Homo sapiens: one gene and its partner. The protein of the gene in region 2 purifies or fractionates together with the protein of the main gene of each other region. This does not show direct contact. Each region holds a gene or a part of one and is shown on either strand. Other genes may lie near its edges.

What was found.
Region 1: the proteins of HIVEP3 (region 2) and WWP1 purify together in Homo sapiens (affinity purification with western blotting, with the first as the bait; one study listed by BioGRID). This does not show direct contact.

What each region holds. Positions count from the first base shown.
Region 1 is NC_000008.11:86,348,786-86,352,608, forward strand, and holds part of WWP1 (NEDD4-like E3 ubiquitin-protein ligase WWP1), read left to right. Parts: intron 1-3,823. UniProt on the Homo sapiens protein: E3 ubiquitin-protein ligase which accepts ubiquitin from an E2 ubiquitin-conjugating enzyme in the form of a thioester and then directly transfers the ubiquitin to targeted substrates.
Region 2 is NC_000001.11:41,912,390-41,916,212, forward strand, and holds part of HIVEP3 (transcription factor HIVEP3), read right to left. Parts: intron 1-3,823.

The DNA of each region.
Region 1 (3,823 bases), on a different chromosome or scaffold from region 2:
AGGTGAGTGTTGTTTCAGTTATGTACTGCTGTGTAGCAAACAGCCCTAAACCAAGTGACTTAAAACAACCATTTTCTTTGTTACAGTTTTGCTTTCCTGGGTTGGGCTCAGTTGGGCAGGTTTTGCTGGTGATCACTCTAATGGCTGCTTTTCTCTCCAAGTAGCCTTTCCAGCAGAGTTGCTGGCCTTACCTGGTAGCTGATGGCTTAGGGCTCACAAGAGTACAAAACAGAAGCAACCAGATCTTTTTTTTTGAGAGGGAGTCTCACTCTGTCACCCAGGCTGGAGTGCAGTGGCTCAGTCTTGGCTCACTGCAACCTCCACCTCCCAGGTTCAAGCAATTCTCCTGCCTCAGCTTCCCGAGTAGCTGGGATTACAGGCGTGCACCACCATGCCCAGCTAATTTTTGTATTAGTAGAGATGGGGTTTCACCATGTTGGACAGGCTAGTCTGGAACTCCTGAGCTCAGGTGATCTGTCCGCCTCGGCCTCCCAGAGTGCTGGGATTACAGGCGTGAGCCACCGTGCCTGGTCTGCAACCAGATCTTCTTAAGGTTTAGACTTGTAAGGGATACAGTATCATTTCTGCCTTATTATACTGGTTAAAGCAAGTCACAAATCTAGCCCAGGTTCAAGGGTACAAATGTGTGAATCCATTTGGGGCCACCCATGTAACAGATTACCATAAATTTTATTTAAGTATAACATCAGCTTTACTATACCAAAACAGGACTTACGGAAAACTGTTTTGGAAGCTGAAGCTTAGGCAGCTTACTACTTTCCGCAAATCTGGATTTTGAGTCTGAGCATGCCACAGGGAAAGCTGAGTCTAAAAAGTGCAAATGACAGCACATCTGGCTTACTACGCAAATGGGAATACCTAGCACTCTCCTTGGTTAGAAAAGAGGAGAACATTTGTGGCCTCTGAGGTTTTTCCTAGTGTGCCACCATAATAGGGTAGGATTGACTTGCCTTCTGCTTGAGGGCAGTGGGATCTAACAAAGTACAGGACCCAAGAGTCCATGCTGCTTGGAAGTAGTGATTTACCCGATCTCGTGAATTGGAACAGACAGCATCCCATGCAGAAAATGGGCCACAGATGGGCAGAGATCGATTCCCTCTGCCCTTGTGATTGGATTTGAGACCTAGGGGAGAAGGGTTTCTTGACTATCACTCTGGCCTTGACCAGAGTGAGCAACCTGTCCCCCACGCGCTCCAAGCCCCAATGGCATTTTCTGTTTGCAGTGTCTTGAAAAAGCTTGGGATAAGCTACTCTTCCTTGGAGAGGTGTCATTATAGTGGAGAGAATTCTCTTTCCTTCTAGAGACTGGAATGGTAATCCTCTCTTATGGAAATACAATGAATAAGGTGCTGCTTCTCCTTTCCAAGAACAGGTAGATTCATTGATTGCTATCTGGGTTTTTCTCGCATTATCACTTAACCTTATCCACTATCGCTTTATTTTAGTCTTAGCAGTATTTTTTGTTTGTTTGTTTTTAGTTCAAGTTGGCTGCTAAGTAATGCCATGGTTAAAGGTGAAATGAAGAAAATGAGTGTTTAGTTTTTATTACATTATAGCTTCTGAGTGGAGTAGTGAATGCATTTCATTTTAAGAATTTAGGTTATTAGTGCATAGCTGCGAAGCATTTTTGAAGCATTTCATGTACACTAAAAAACGGGCCCCTGCATCCTAATGCAAATCTCTTTGCAAATTTCTGAAAATAGTACATTGGCTGTTGCGGGGAGGAGTTTGGTAATTGGATGTACTGAGAAACATGATTTATAGAAATAGGAAAGGCCAGGGCACAAAGAAGGGCACGGATAGAGTTACATGAAGGTGCTTCTTGATGGCTGTCCTCCCTACCCTAAATTATTTGGGTAGTTAAAAAATATCCTAGCATTAACAGAATGTAGGTATGATAGCCTTTTAGGAAACAAGGAAAACAAGTTCTTTTGATAGCTGTTCAGTATACTCATAAATCTGATTGACTGGGCTGGGTGGAAGCTGACTGTTGAGTCCTGACTTGAAATTAGGATACTGTGGTTACACATTAGCCCCAACTTGCCAAGATGTCCTACTTTTTGTCTGTGTTTAGTTAGACTGGGGAGGAGAATTAGTTAAATGAACCTGTTTTGTATAAAGTAGGATATTCTTTACCTTAGAAGTAAACAAACTAGATTGTTCTTCTCTTTTTAAGTTTTTAACGGTAGAGGCACTTTTGGCATACAGGTTAAGAGTCACAGTTTAAAGTCAGGCAGACCTGACTTCTGGTAGTATTGCTTAATGGCAGGATTGCCTCAGTTTCTTCTTTTGTAAAATGTAAAGAATACCATCCTTAATGGATTTTTGTAAGGATTAATTGAAATAATGTTTATAAAGCAGAAAGCATGGTGGCTAGAACGTAAGCCCTTAAATCATGTTTATTGCTCGTAATTCAGTATTATGAAGTTGAAAATTCAAACAAGTATTCACTTTGCTGTGAGCTACTCATTTCTCAAAGACAGTTCTAGCTTCGTTTTGGCATGGGCAGAGCTCCTTATCAAATTTCCACCCCCAGCTTTTTTTTGAGACAGGGTCTCCGACAGCTCTGTCTCCCAGGCTAGAGAGCAATAGTGTGATCATGGTTCATAGCAGGCTTGACCTCGGGGGCTCAAGCAATCCTCCCACCTCAGCCCCACAAGTAGCTGGGACTACAGTTACGCACTAACATGCTCAGCTAGTTTTTTTTTTTTTTTAGTAGAGATGTTGCCCAGGCTGGTCTTGAATTCCTGGGCTCAAGTGATCCCCCCTACCTCGACCTCCCATAGTGCTGGGATTTACAGGCATGAGCCACCAGGCCTGGCCAAATAAACAAAAAAAAAGTTGCTAAAAGGGTAAGCACGAAATCTGGGATACTGACTTAACATGGCTGGCAATATATCAGCTAGTGATGGTTTTGCTGTGCAGCCTGGGAACAAGAAATCATTAACACCATCATTAGATGAAATATTGTATTGACCAGTGTTTGTCAAAGCGCAATCCTTATATAACAGTCGTCTGGGATGCTTATTAAACATGTTGATTCTTGAGTATCCTTTGAGATCTCTGATATGGTCCTTGAGAGTGGAGCTTAGGGATCTTCATTTTTTGCAAATATCTCAAGAGATTTTATGCACATTAGTTTGAGAACTGTTGGTAGAAACTGAATTGGTTATTTGGGGTCCTAGTGTGCTCTGTCAGAGTTCATTTTTCTAGCTAGCTAGCTAAAATATTCCTTTTTTTTTTTTTTTTTTGAGAAAAGGTCTTGTTCTGTCACCCAAGGCTAGAGTGCAGTGGCAAGATCATGGCTCACTGCAACCTTAACCAACCTCCTGGGCTCAAACGATCCTCCCACCTTAGCCTCCCTAGTAGTTGGGAGTACAGGTGTGTGCCGCGACACCTAGCTAATTTTTTATTTTTATTTATTTATTTATTTATTTTAAGACAGAGTCTTACTGTCACCCAGGTTGGAGTGCAGTGGCGCTATCTCGGCTCACTGCAACCTCTCCCTCCCAGTTTCAAATGATTCTTGTGCCTCATCCTACCGAGTAGCTGGGATTACAGGTGCATGCCACCAGGCCCAGCCAATTTTTGTATTTTTAGTAGAGACGGGATTTTACCATGTTGGCCAGGCTGGTCTCGAACTCCTGGCCTCAAGTGATTCACCCGTCTTGGCCTCCCAAAGTTCTGGGATGGATTATAGCCATGAGCCACCGTGCCCTGCCTAATTTTTTATTTTTCTTAGAGATGGGGGTCTTACCTTATTTCCCAGGCTGGTCTTGAACTCCTGGACTCAAGTGATCCT
Region 2 (3,823 bases):
TTAATAAGAAACTCTCATATCAAATTGCTGCAGTTCCTGCCATATCTTTTCTAGTTGCTGGGCAAAGATGCTCTCCTCAATTGTAATTGGTGTGCTCTTAAACCCACTTAAAATTCTAAGAGCTTCTCCCCAGACCACTCCAAAACATTCTTGTGAGAATCTTTCCAGTGAGGTACAGCAAGGCCCAACCTCCAGGGCACATTATGCTCTGGCTCATTTATTTGATACAATCATAATCATAGTGGGTTTTTTTCTCAAACTTTGAAATCTTCAAAATGAGGGCATGGAGCAAATGACTACATTCTGCTTCTCTTGCTAAGATTTCAATGGTGATGCTCTCATTTTAAGTTCTTTACCAGACGCTTCAGCTGTGCTATGCCCAATTCCCCTCATCAAGATTTGCTGACAGTCAGGGGAAGTTTCTAACACTGTATTAAGTGTATACTGAGGGCCAGGGAATTGGGGGGAGTTTGAGGGGCTGCACACATGTGCAATTTTTTAGCAAACCCAGCAGATGCTTGTAGATTCAACACTTTTTCAGTTATTTGTGAACAACCCCTAATAGCCACACCACATGGCAATTTGTCTTTTCTCTGGAGCACAAATGTGAACTGTATGTTGCAAAGCCACAGCAAAGAACAAGTCACTTAGCTAGAGAGGGAGTCTTCTCAAAGACCCAGTAACCCCATCCCAAGATGCCACCAGGGAAACAGAAACTCTCTGGAGGTGAAAGAAACTTAATTTCCTTGAGTGCAAATTGAAAAGGCAAATAATTGGTAGCCTGTGAATAGTCATAGGAACCTCTTCACTCTGGAATGGAACCTGATTCAGGAGGAAGTCAAGAGCCTATGCAAATATTTCTGCATTTGCAAACTTGGGGATTTGCCAAGGGCTTGAGATGTATCCACTGAAAATGTCAAGCGTCTACTGTGTAGAATTTTGATGGAGGAGGATTTCAAAATTCTTCTTCTATTTAAATCCAATCAATTCATGTTTATCAGGGCATCTCTGATCTTTTTGTTTTTAAGAGACATATTTGCTCTATTGTCCAGGCTGGAGTACAGTGATGTGATCATAGCCCATGGCAGGCTCAAACTCCTGGACTCAAGAGATCCTCCCGCCTCTGTCTCCTGAGTAGTTAGAATTACAGGTGTGAGCCACCATGTCCATAATTTTATTTTTATTTTTTTTAAGACAGGGTCTTGCTATGTCGCCCAGGCTGATCTCAAACTCCTGGGCTCAAGTGATCCTCCTGTGTCAGCCTCCTGAGCAGCTGGCATTACAGGCATGAGCCACTGTATCCAGCTCCTCTGATCTTAAGATAGTTTCAACATCTAATGCTAAGCCTGGAAGTCCAATGAAAGACTCAATAGACTAAAATTGGTGACTGAGATTCGGAGGAGCATATCGTGTGTTTATAACACTGCTTTTATTTTTTCCATATCTTTCTACTATTTGTTTATTAGCTTTTCTTTGGATCTCAGTTATTCATACATAACACATGTTTAAAAAGTTGATCCTAAACCCCAATTCAAGGGTCCACCGATGCTCAGAGATCTCAAGATTTCTGAGACTAGCTTCCCTATACTTCTCCCTGGCTTTGCTCCCCAAATCTGAAAGGCATTTTCAGATCACCCCTACTTCATATTTAGATATAAAGCTTCCCCCTTTATCCACAAGAATTCCAGCTGCACCTGGCATTTCAAAAACACTTAGTAATGAGGAGGGGAGACCCATCAGTCATGTACTCACCACTTCCATTGTTGTCCTGCCTCCCAAGCACATATTTCCAACTGTGAAACCTCCCAACAGGGCAGTCCTCTGGATAGTGTGGTTCAGTCACTTCCCACCACCATGCCTCACCTCCTCTGCCTTCCAAGCCCTCTGGGACTTCAGGGAATACCTTTTCTCCATCATATTACAATTAGATACAGGGAACCTTTGGAGAGTTCTGAGTATTTGTGATTATATTCAATAACCTGTTACTGACAGTTTCTTTTAGTTAAAGAATTTTTTCAAGTAAGTTACCAAAACAATGAATGTATGTACATCTAGAAACTGAGAAATACTCTTCCATGACTTTTAGTTAGGTCCTCACGTTTTCCACATATGTATTGAATTTTTAAAATACTATTTTAAAAGGGTCTACATTTATTTTCCTCTACTTTTGTTTTTCCTCTTGCCTTTGTTTTGGAGCAAATTTTAACTGAACACATTGTCAGAGGGTCAGGCCAAGTTTGGCACTGCTCGTGTATCTCAGCCACCTTCCAGTTTTCAGCACGATGTCTGAACTGAAAAAACACCATTGCTTACCATAAGGGTGTGGCCATGACAGCTTGAACAACATCCGGGTAGTGGTAAGTCTACATTTGCTACACAGATGTAAGAAACAGATAGCAGTAGGGTCTACCTCTCCTGCTCCATCTTTTCCATCACCAGGTCTCTTCCAACTCCAGAATTAAAGTCATCAAGTTGGAACAACTCTAAGTGTGTTTCCTGATCATAACAAGACAGGTTGAGGTTCATGAATATTTTCTTTAGTATTAAATGTTAGAACATAACCACTAATAATAACAGTAGCATAGTAGTTCCCTGATAAATTTTGACAAAAGATCATAAAGTTCTCAATTTCAACAGCAGGGCTTTATAGTTGTAATATAATTTTGACCAGTAAGCCACCGGCTATCCAGAAACCTCACAGGTGCCATTATCATGGATAGTTGCAGTTTTTTCTCTAAGAATCATGCAAAAAAAAAAAATCTTTTGGGGATACTTCAGAACTCTGTCTTTTTAAATTGGATGAACAAAATATAATTTTAACTTCTATGGATACATGTGGGTCATTGTGAGCATCAGTTACTATGTTATAAAACAGAGTACCAAAGATCCATCAAAATACATAAAATTTCACTGAATTGCTTACATTAAATGCTCATATCAGCTTTAGAATTCCATGCCTTGAATTCTTGTGCCTTTTAAATTTTTTTTTAGTTTTTCTGTTTTTTACTCTTACTTCTTACTGATACTTGATAAAAGAGCTTTAATAATCCTTGCACAGTACAGTATCAGTTGCTTCCAATTTGCTAGGTGCATTTGACAAACTAATAACCAAGCCTCTTAAAACTTGAAGTAAATGCAGAGGCCTGAAAGAGGGTATAAAATTTCCTCCAATGATCAAAATTCATAAACTGTAGCTCATGGACTTATGACCTTTCTCTTGATTTGCCATCTAGGTCCCAACTGGATAAGTGAAATTATGTAAATGTGAGTTCCAGATTGTTGTGGTATTATCCTAATACCTATCAACTACATAGCATGTTACTAAACGTATCTCATTTTTCTTCTCAAGATAGTTCAGTGGTCTTGGTAAGGTTATGATGGTTACACCTACTTTACAGATAAGGAAGAAAATTGGTCACGGGCTTTGGCCAAGTCTGACCCAGAATGCTAGTGCTGCCTGTTGATACAGCCAGTGTTTTCCAGCCCTGCCCGCCTAGTGCATCTGCAGATTTGTAAATACACTTTGACTCCACAGGAAACAGGATGGAGAACAGCATGTCAGGGACTCCTTGATGGGCAGGATGGAGGGCAAAAAAGAGCCTTAAAGACATTAGGGAATTCACAGAGTAGGGAGTGAGAGACAAGTTAAATGCTATCCAGTTGTCACACAGCTTTCTTAATGTTATCTTTCATCAAATCATGTCCTAGAACCTGCCAGGACTTCAGACTAAATGCATCTTCTTCTTGCCTGTACCTTTCACACACTAAATGTCTCAACAGCTCACTTGGCAAGGACCCAAAGGCAGCACACACTTCTCCACTC